Linked DNA regions of Homo sapiens. The protein of the gene in region 1 interacts with the protein of each later gene in a pairwise test. Each region holds a gene or a part of one and is shown on either strand. Other genes may lie near its edges.

The links.
Region 2: the proteins of RNF135 (region 1) and CTNNAL1 interact in binary tests that used the Homo sapiens proteins (3 or more experiments, as listed by UniProt).

What each region holds. Positions count from the first base shown.
Region 1 is NC_000017.11:30,994,894-31,000,564, forward strand, and holds the end of RNF135 (E3 ubiquitin-protein ligase RNF135), read left to right. Parts: intron 1-2,348; coding exon 2,349-2,438; intron 2,439-3,768; coding exon 3,769-4,298; 3' UTR 4,299-5,018; downstream 5,019-5,671.
Region 2 is NC_000009.12:108,941,844-108,947,564, forward strand, and holds the end of CTNNAL1 (alpha-catulin), read right to left. Parts: intron 2,176-5,721; coding exon 2,119-2,175; intron 1,974-2,118; coding exon 1,860-1,973; intron 1,202-1,859; coding exon 1,118-1,201; intron 1,029-1,117; coding exon of another isoform or gene 1,011-1,028; exon of another isoform or gene 992-1,010; coding exon 926-991; 3' UTR 734-925; downstream 1-733. UniProt on the Homo sapiens protein: May modulate the Rho pathway signaling by providing a scaffold for the Lbc Rho guanine nucleotide exchange factor (ARHGEF1).

The DNA.
Region 1 (5,671 bases):
TCCCAAAGTGCTGGGATTACAGGTGTGAGCCACCACGCCTGGACTGTAACTTTAATTTTAATTTTTTAGGATCAGGTCTTACTTTGTTGCCCAGGCTAGAGTACTGTGGCACAACTATGGCTCACTGTAACCTCAATCCTCCTGCTTCAGCCTCCCCAGTAGCCAGGACTATAGGCCCACACCACCATGCTCAGCTATTTAAAGAATTGTTTTGGCCGGGACAGTGGCTTACGCCTGTAATCATAGCACTTTGGGAGGCCGAGGCGGGTGGATCACTAGGTCAGGAGATCGAGATCATCCTGGCTAACACGGTGAAACCCCGTCTCTACTAAAAATACAAAAAAATTAGCTGGGTGTGGTGGTGGGCGCCTGTAGTCCCAGCTACTCAGGAGGCTGAGGCAGGAGAATGGCGTGAACCCGGGAGGTGGAGCTTGCAGTGAGCTGAGATTGCGCCATCGCACTCCAGCCTGGGCGACAGAGCGAGACTCAGTCTCAAAAAAAAAAAAAGAATTGTTTTGTAGAGACAGGGTCTCATTATGTTGCCCAGGCTGGTCTGGAACTCCTCCTGGCCTCAAGTGAGCCTGCTGCCTCAGCCTCCTAACTAGCTGGGACTATAAGCATGGGCCACCATGCCTGGTTTCATGTTGCAGAATTGAAACTCTATACCCATTAAGCAACAATTCCACATTCCTTCAACCCCCTCCTACCTGGCAACCACTATTCCACTTTCTGTTCTATGAATTTGACTATTCTAGATACCTCATGTGAGTGGAATCATACAGTATTAGTGTGTGAGAGGTTTATTTCACTTAGCATAATGTCCTCCAAGCTCACCTATGTTGTAGCATATATCAGAATTTGTTACTTTTTTTTTTTTTGAGACGGAGTCTTGCTCTGTCACCCAGGCTGGAGTGCAGTGGTGCGATCTTGGCTCACCGCAACCTCTGCCTCCCGGGTTCAAGCAATTCTCCCACCTCTGCCTCCCTAGTAGTAGCTGGGATTACAGGCATGTGCTACCACCCCTGACTAGTTTTGTGTGTGTGTGTGTGTGTGTGTATTTTTTAGTAGAGATGGGGTTTCGCCATGTTGGCCAGGCAGGTCTCGAACTCCTGACCTCAGGTGATCCGCCCGCCTCAGCCTCCCAAAGTATTGGGATTACAGGCGTGAGCCACCACGCCCAGGCAGAATTCATTACTTTTTTTTTTTTTTTTTTTTGAGATGGAGTCTCACTCTGTTTCCCAGGCTGGAGTCAGTGGTGCGATCTCGGCTGACTGCAAACTCCGCCTCCCAGGTTCAAGTGATTCTCCTGCCTCAGCTTCCCAAGTAGCTGGGATTACAGCCATGTGTCACCACACGCAGCTAATTTTTGTATTTTTAGTAGAGATGGGGTTTCACCATATTGGCCAGGCTGGTCTTGAACTCCTGACCTTGTGATCTGCCTGTCTTGGCCTCCCAAAGTGCTGGGATTACAGGTGTGAACCACTGCGCCCAGGCAGTATTCGTTACTTTTTAAGGCTAAATAATATTCCATTGTATGTATATATCACATTTCTTTATCCATTTTTCTGTCTCTGGACACAGGGATTGCTTCAGTTCCGAGTTGAATTTTGAGACTGGCCTCTTTACAGGCAGCTCTCTTGCTCTCATGACCTAAGTTACCACAGGCACACCCTAGACAAGGTCTTTCATCTCTTCTCAGGTGGAGTCTTAGATTCACTGCAGCTGCTGTCACTTCAAGATACAAGTAGGACAAGATTTTGCCTTCAAAGTCTGCACTCTAGGACTTCCCTTACTTATCATCTGCCTGACGTGGTCATTGCACTCTAGCACACATGACTGCTTTAAGTTAATAATTAAACTTTAGCACATCGAGAGGGAATTAGGAGGTGTCAGCAATGGTGATGAATCTCACCCCAACTCATGTTACCCAGTTTATGTAACAACAGTTTAAAACATTGACTTGGGGGTCCTGGATATTCTAGGTGTTAGGGTGCTGCAATCCCCTGGAACTGTATTAGTTGATTTTATTTCATGAGTGTGCATAAAACACCTTCTATCTATGGGACTGGCATGGGGCTTGGTGCTTAGAACATATAGATGAACAAGATCTTTGCTAGCAAGGAGCTGAGAGCTTAGTGAAGAAAGAGTGAAAAGTCCACAGTGAGAACATGGAGGTGCACATACCTGGGCTGCAGGCACACTGCCTCTGCCTGATCCAGTCCTGACACTGAAAAATGTGTAGATGATAAGAAGACAAGCCAGCCATGTGCCTTGACCATGATGTTTGGAGACCTTCAGTTTGCCTTTTTCTGATGGGACTTTCCTCTGTTAATTTTTTTGTTACTTAGGAGAACTCCTGGAAGCCCCGTCTTCCTCCTCATGCCCATTGCCTGACCAGAGCCACCCTGCACTCAGGAGAGCTTCTCGGTTTGCTCAGTGTAAGTATGTGGTCCACTTTAAACATGGGTTTGGCTTGCCGCAGAGCGGGCTTCGAGAATATCCTACATCCATCTCCCTACTGCTAGGGCCACTCCTTGGCTTACTGCACATGGATTTGTTCCAGGTCCCTCCACGGGGGGAGCTGATTGCAAAGGCAAAGCAGGTTGAGACTCTAGACCCAAGAGCACTCAGAGTCCCGCCAACCTTTGAGCATCTCTGCTGTGGCCACCAACTACAGCCAACTGCCTGTTCCCAAACCTGCTGAGGTATTTCTGCATCTGTGCTGTGGCCACCAACTATAGCCAACTGCCTCTTCCTAAACCTGCTGAGGTATTTCTGCCATCTCAGTCTGGGATAGTCCTTAAGAGCATGGATCCCAGAGCCAGACTGCTTGGGTTTGACTCCCAGCAGCTCCACTAACTAGCTGTGTGATCTTGGGCAAGTCACTTAAGCTTCCTAGAGCCTGGGTTTCCTCATCTGTAAAATGGAGATAATATAGTACTTCTCTTGCGGGATTGCCATGAGGGTTAAGTGAGTGAGTATGAGTAAAACACCTAGAGTAGTCATGCTGTATAAGTGTTAGCAATTTATTCACTCAATAGGAAACCAAATGAAATATACAAAGTGAGTAAGACATGGTCCTCAATCAGGAAGTTTCAGTTTAACTGGGAAGGTATAAACAGCTGTGGTCATAAATCACCATAAGACGGGCGTGAGCCACCGCACCTTGCCTACGCCCAGCTAATTTTGGTATGTTTAATAGAGACAGGAGTTGGCCATGATGGCCAGGCTGGTCTTGACCTCCTGGCCTCAAGTGTTCCACCTGCCTCAGCCTCCCAAAGTGCTGGGATTACAGGGGTAAGCCAGTGCACCTGGCTGAAGGAGCTGGCCTGATTTTTAAAATTGACATATAATAATTGTATAGTCTGGGTGCAGTGGCTCATGCCTGTAATTGCAGCACTTTGGGAGGCTGAGATGGCAGGATTGCTGGAGCTCAGGAGTTCGACACCAGCCTAGGAAGCATGGCAAAATCCTGCTTCTTTTCTAAATAAATTTTAAAAATAAATAAATATAATAAGTGTACATATTTATGGGATACATAGTGATGTTTCAATACATATGGTGCATAGTGATCCGATCAAGGTAGTTAGCATATCTATCATCTGAAACATTTATCATTTCTTCCTGTTGGGTGATGTAGCAATTTTAATGCTAGTGTGAGTGAAACATCACACCAAAAGATACAAAGTTGCTATTTGAAGACTTCTTAGCATGGACCATCAAAAGATGACCGGCCATGTTCTTATTGTTCTTTTTTTTTTTCCAAAGGGGCCATCCATCCAACCTTTAACTTGAAGAGCCTTTCCTGCAGCCTGGAGGTGTCCAAGGATTCCCGTACAGTGACTGTGTCTCACCGCCCACAACCCTATCGCTGGAGCTGTGAGAGGTTTTCTACCAGCCAGGTCTTATGTTCCCAGGCCCTGTCTTCTGGAAAGCATTACTGGGAAGTGGACACTAGGAATTGCAGCCACTGGGCAGTTGGGGTGGCTTCCTGGGAGATGAGCCGCGACCAGGTCCTGGGAAGGACTATGGACTCTTGTTGTGTGGAATGGAAGGGGACTAGCCAGCTCTCTGCATGGCACATGGTCAAGGAAACTGTCCTTGGCTCAGACAGACCTGGGGTGGTGGGCATCTGGCTGAACCTTGAGGAGGGAAAGCTTGCCTTCTATTCAGTGGACAATCAGGAGAAGCTTCTGTATGAGTGTACCATCTCTGCCTCCTCTCCTTTGTACCCTGCCTTCTGGCTGTATGGCTTACATCCTGGAAATTACCTGATAATAAAGCAAGTAAAGGTGTAAGGTTTCCTAAGGGATTACAACACAGTGGTTTCCTGGTCTCTCTCCCTGTCATCAATCAGGGTAGTAACTTGACTTAAGAATACCACTTTTTAGAAAAATTACGATAGAGATGGGATCTCACTAGGTTGCCCAGGCTGGTGTCGAATTCCTGGTCTCAAGCAGTCCTCCCACCTCAGCCTCCCAAGGTGCTGGGATTACAGGTGTGAGCCACCACACCTGGCCAAGAATACCACTTTTGAAGTTAATCCTTTTGTGTGATACAGGATGAACTTGGGATGTTTGAACCCTGGACATTCCAAATAAAGAATAGGCCCCTGCCTGGCTCCTGGGAGATAACCTCTAAGCCATTAGAATATCTTGCCTGATAAGAGTGTTTTTGTTTACCTGTGGGCCTTGGGCCATGCAGTATCAGCTTGACCTTGCAAGGTCAAGCTGAGGAGACTAAGTTAGCCATGTGGGCAGTGAAGCATGCCAATGTGATCAATCCCTAGTAAAAGCCCTGGACACCTAGGCATGGGTGAGCTACTCTGGTTGGTAATACTCTGTGCACACATCATTGTAGCCACACATCATTGCTGGGAGAATTAAGCATTATCCTGAAGACTCTGCCAGGAGAGGATAATTGGAAGTTCTCTTGGACCTTACCTTATGTGCCTTTCTTCATTGCTGATTTTAATCTGTATCCTTTCACTGTAATAAACTGTAACTATGAGTGCAACACTTTGCTGAGTTCTGTGAGTCCTTCTAGTGAATCACTGAACCTGAGGGCAGTCTCAGAGGATCTCTAAACATAATTTGCTACTTATCAGTTGCTATGTAAGAATATTGCCACAAATTTAATGGTTTAAAATAACACATAGATATTATTTCACAGTTTCTGTGAGTCAGGAGTCAGAGCATAGCTTAGCTGAGTCTCCTACATCAGAGTTTTACAAGCTGCAATCAACATGTCAGCTGGGGACACAGGGTCATCTGAGGCTCCAATGGGGAAGGATCTGCCTCCAAATTACATGGTCATTGGCAGCCTTCAGTTCTTGAGTTGCCGGACTGAGGGCCTCAGTTTCTTTCTGGTTGTTGGCTGGAGACCGCCCTCAGTTCCTTACCCCATAGGCCTTTGCAACACAGCTGCTTGTTTCCTCAAAGACAATAAGGGAGAGGGTCTCCTAGCCAGATGACGCAAAATCTTTTTTTTTTTTTTGAGACGGAGTCTCACTCTTGATGCCCAGGCTGGAGTGCAGTGGTGTGATCTGGGCTCACTGCATCCGCCGCCTTCCAGTTTCAAGCAATTCTCCTGCCTCAGCCTCCCGAGTAGCTGGGATTACAGATGTCTGCCACTACGCCCGGCTAATTTTTTTTTTGTATTTTTAGTAGAG
Region 2 (5,721 bases), on another chromosome or scaffold:
ATCCTTCAATCATGACCCCACCCACAAAAACAAGAAAAGCTTTAAACTCCTAAATTAAAAAGACTAAAGAAAGATGTTTTTTGTTTTGTTTTATAGTGAACATTTCAAATGTGTGATATTCAGAATTTAAATAGATTCTTGGCTTCCTTATTCTGTCTTTGTCTTCCATTCCATCAATCAATACTGAGAAAGTTCAAAATATCTTTTAAGTCTATAAGATAGGCTTAGAATCCCAGCTAATATTCAGGGCAGACTGGCCAGCTATGCTAGAACTAGAACCAAAAACCCATCTCATACTCTCCAGGAGTTGTTCCAGGATTCTGTGGAGTTCCATTACCTTACTTTTGGGAGTAGGTGAGGGACATACACAGCACAGCAGACCCACCCTTGCTGTACAAAATGCTTATTAGGGAACAAACTTGCTGCTGGCATGGACAATCTGGGACAGGGTCATCAAGGGGATTTTTGTCACACTTGGTAAACAGAGGGATTGAAGAGTCCACAGGTTTAAGGAAAACCCTGCATTCACCCAGACTACTGTATGTTTGCTGCTGACATTAGTGATCTAGATGATAAAGAAAACAGTTAAGGTAAAATATGCCAAAGCTAAGCACATATTCAAAATAGCTTCTTGTGGATTAAATTGTCCTTGAGACAGTTGGGATATTTGGTTTGACTTTTAAAGAACATTAGTGCAATGTTCTATTTTAAAAATCACACTACAATTAGAATCTAGCAATTACCAAGACATTTATTAGTTGTCAAAAAGCTTTACAATCAGTTTCATGATCAGAAAATAGAGCAAAATTTCAATATTGTTTTCTTTATAAAATTGATGAATTTCTGAAAAGATAAAGGATCATTTGATTTTTAAAAATGTCAGCTTCATCACATGATGTTCCAGAGATCTGACCCCAAAAGCTTCTCAAGTTTTACTATCCATAGTGTCCTTATTTGTAACTGAGACCCATCCGTTATTTTCCATCTGAAGCTGGAAAGAGTTAAGACAATTAGTATCTGGTTTCACTCTGAAAAAAAAATTACAAAATTAAGTAGTAACTATTTTCTTTTAAACCATTTTTTAAAGTATGAGTCTAAAATAGAAAAACTACCTCACCTTCTTCAGCAGTTTATAACAAAGTGAAAGAAGTTGGACTAAGAGAGCCATCATGGATCTTGTCTTCGTAATACACTTGTCAACCTACAATGACAAAAAGCATGCAAATGATATTCTAAAAGTAGTACTTAAAAGACCTTACCATTTATTTAGTTTTAACATGATAAAATTTCTCCATATGGAAATCTAAGGGATCTTGAAAGAGATATGGATTTAGGCACATGAGCTGACTCAAAGCCCCAGGACACAGGTGCAGGGGTAGCTGCCTAGATTTCATGTCTATCTCATGGAACCCCAGCAGAAAGAGTGGGTGGAAAATTAATCATTCTACTGCAGGCTGTTTAGGGGCTTCTCAAAACACTCCAAATAGTGGAATTAAATCCCATCCTTTGCAATTCCTTGCACTCTATTTTGTGGGCACAAACCCATATTCTCTCAGACAAATTATGGGAGACCAGACTCGGAGGCACCTGTGTCCTAGTTGCAGAGGTAATGACTTCAGAATTGAAGGGCAGCTGTTCAGTGCTATGGAATTAATGATGTCCAAAAAACTACTTTATTTGGTGAATCTGCTACTCTCTGGGGTCAGTTATGAGAGTAGATAATAAATGATTCTTGTAGACAAGGCATGAAAAAAGGAAATAAATTGCCCTTCTGTGGGTACTAACAGTTTATTTGAAGAAAAAGGGGCTTTAACCAGATAAAGATAGATGTGTGAAAGTTTTTCATATGTCTCTTTTACCTTTAGAAATACTTTATTCTGCAAAGAAGTCTTAGTTACTGTCTGGAGCTGGTGGCATAGAGGAATTAGCTTGTTTATTTCCAGGAGAAGCATAAGCTTGTCATCGTCTTTCAGCTGAAATGTAATTTAACAAGTTATAACAGCCCGCAACAAAACTCCATCTTTAATACCTTAAACACATTTATACATTGATATTATACCCCCAAAGTAGGTTATACATAATACCACCACCAGCTCCAGGTAGGTAGACATGTGTTACCTGTTTTGAAAAAGCTTGAACACTGGAAGTAAGCTTTAAACCCTCTGCAGCAAAAACCTGGTAGAAAGAGAAAACACCACTATTTTAGACTGATGTCTATGGATAGTTGGTAAGAAATATACTTACTAATAATTTTTACGTAGAATTTTAAAAATAAAGCCTAGATATAAAAAGTCTGTCAGGAACTCCTAAACTTTTTCCAGTACCAGGAATGCACAAGGGTTTAACTGTTTTCAGAAGGAGTTTCCACAGACCAGATGCAGAATCCATCCCTGGAGAGGCTTCTCTACACCAGACCTCCAATTATTCTGGAGGGTCACACAGACCTGTGATATTCAGCCACACAAATTATGTCTAGATTACGCAAGGGACCTAGAGCTCATCTCAAATATGCTCAATTATAAAAGGATGATGAATTTTCAAGCATGAGGTCAAAAGGGTTAGGACCTTCCCAATTCCATCTAGGCAAGACAAAATTTGTCACCCATACATATTCCATAACCAGACATTTGAGAGAACCAATCCAGGTGGTTGGTTTTTGTTGCCACTTTTTTTCAGATTAATTTTCACTATTCACCATGTACCATGAATTCTATAATTTAATGAGATGAACAGGATGATGGAGAAGTAGAGTGAAAAAGAAGGTTGTACAGGTAAGACAGAAGTATTTAGCATATTATGTTAAAATGGTTTGCAGACTATTTTAGAGTGAGATGCCAGGGGAGTAAAGGGAGGAAGGCTTAGTTTTAGGTGGCGTCAGTAATAATGGAGAGAACAGGGAAAATCTGAGAGTGGTTTGTGAATGAAAATAATAGGTCTTCATAATAAATTAAAGAATACTAAGAAGGAGGAGGCAATAATTCCAGGGTTAATTTTTACCCTCTATTCAAAAGGCTTAACACCTTGCTATCACTGGATAAAATGATCTCAAGGTCAAATCGTACTTTGCAACCTTCCCTTTAAAAGGGAAACCAGTAAGCTTTACATCTAGACTCCAACCAAATGAAATGATTCACTTCCCCAAGTGTTCCTTATCACTTCATGTTACCACTTTCTATTCTGCAAATTTTCTCTTTCCTTCTAGCCTGCAAACCCCTTGGGGACAAAATCCATGTCTGTCTCATACAGTATGATGGTTTTAAAACTACCTGAAAGCTGGTAACTCCCAGGTCTCTCTCTCCACTCCTGAACTATCCTGACATCAGTCTTGTACAGTCATCCCTCAGTATCCATGGGAGATTGGTTCCCAGACCTCCCCAAGGATACCAAAATCTGTAGATGCTTAAGTCCCTTAAATAAAACAGTGTAGTATTTGCATATAACCTACACACATCATCCCATAAACTTTAAATCATCTCATCTCTAAATTATAATATCTAAGTTAATGTAAATGCTAAGTAAATCGCAGTTATACTGTATTGTTTTCCCTCCCTTGGAACTCTAACCTTTTAAAATGTATTTTGTTTTTTTTTACTGTTGTTATATTTTATTGGTTTTCTTCCTTTTTTTTTTTTTTTTGAGACAGGGTCTCACTCTGTTGTCCAGAGTGAAGTGAAGTGGTGTGATCACAGCTCACTACAGCCTTGACCTCCCAGGCTCAAGCGATCCTCCTGCCTCAGCTGCCTGAGTAGCTAGGATTACAGGTGTGTGCCACCATGCCCCGCTAGTTTTTTTTTTTTTTGTTTTGTTTTTTTGTAGAGACAAGGTCTCACTATGTTGCCCCAGCTGGTCTCAAACTCCTGGACTCAAGTGATCCTCCCAGCTTGGTCTCCCAAAGTGCTAGGGTTACAGGAGTGAGCCATTGTGCCCAGACTGTTTTTACTGTTTTGAATATTTTCAATCCATAGTTGGTTGAATCTGCAGATGCAAAACCTGCAGATAGGGAGGGCCAAGTGTATATCCTATCTGACCTTTGTACTTAACATGTGCAAAACAAAATGCTCGATTTCCACCCTCTAAATCTAGTGTTCTCCCTCAGTGTTCCCTGTCTCAGAAAATGGCACTACCACTCACTCTGTTGGCCAAGCCAAAAACCTTACTTAAAACATAATAGGATCAGCTGGGCATAGTGGCTCAGGCCTGTAATCCCAGCACTTTGGGAGGCTGAGGCGGGCGAATCACAAGGTCAAGAGATCGAGACCATCCTGGCCAACATGGTGAAACCCTGTCTCTACTAAAAATACAAAAATTAGCTGGGCGTGGTAGCGCACACCTGTAGTCCCAGCTACTCGGGAGGCTGAGGCAGAAGAATCACTTGAACCCGGGAGGCGGAGGCTGTAGTGAGCCGAGATCGTGCCACTGCACTCCAGCCTGACAACAGAGCGAGACTAAGTCTCAAAAAAAAAAAAAAAAAAGTCCTTCCCATGGCCTACAGAGACATCATATTTTACCCCTTTCCTTCTGGCTCACTTCACTCCCATCAATAATTGCCTCCTTACTCTTCTGATACACCCAGCCCTACCCCTGCACCTCGGGGCTTTGCACTTGTTTTGGCTATCTAAAATCCTCTACCCACATTTATCCATCCAACTCTCACTTCATTACTGTCTCTATTCAAACACTGGCTCCTTAGAGAGGTCTTTTCTGACCACCCCTCTATCACCTCTGTATTCTAGTCGTACGTGATTTTATCTCCAAGTACTTACATATGTGCACTGAATGCTTAAATTCTTATTGTCTATATTCTGCCATTAGAACATAAGCTCTATGGGGGCAGGAGCTTTGCTTTGTTCACTTTTCTCCACAGAGCTCTGTTCTCCCAGATCTGACATATAGCACAAGTTCAATAAATATTTGTTGAATGAAGTATGCAATTTTATGTTCATCACAGTTTGGAGACAATTCATTGAACATTGATTTAATGACTAAGCTCACATAGGAAGAAGGTAAGTAGTGGATCTTTTGTAGTAAAACACCCCTACAGGGCGGTATGACAGAATGGACTTGGGCCAAACTGAAAAAAAAAATAAATTCAGAATTTCAACTATCTTAAGGGAAATAGCTCATTTATAGTCTGCTTTACAGAAAAATCCAGAAGACACATTTTCTATAATACTTCTGATTATGTTGACAATCATCCTCTTAAGCTGAAATCCCTTTCCCACAGAATGCCAAATAAAACTATATGAGTGATAAAGTGATAGAAATTTCTTTCTTTTTTTTTTTTTTTTGAGATGGAGTCTTGCTCTGTCACCCAGACTGGAGTGCAGTGGCGTGATCTCAGCTCACTGCAAGCTCCGCCTCCCGGGTTCACGCCACTCTCCTGCCTCAGCCTCCCAAGTAGCTGGGACTACAGGTGCCCGCCACCACACCCAGCGAATTTTGTGTATTTTTAGTGGAGACAGGGTTCCACCGTGTTAGCCAAGATGGTCTCGATCTCCTGACCTCGTGATCCACCCACCTTGGCCTCCCAAAGTGCTGGGATTACAGGCGTGAGCCACCGCGCCTGGCCTAAAGTGATAGAAATTTCAAATCTCAGATGTACATGGGAATGCCAAAGGAGACTATATGAGTGATAAAGTGACAGAAATTTCAAATTTACACACAAGAATGCTCTTGGTTCTAGAGAGGCAAACAGGCTAACATGGGGATCAGGGAAAACAT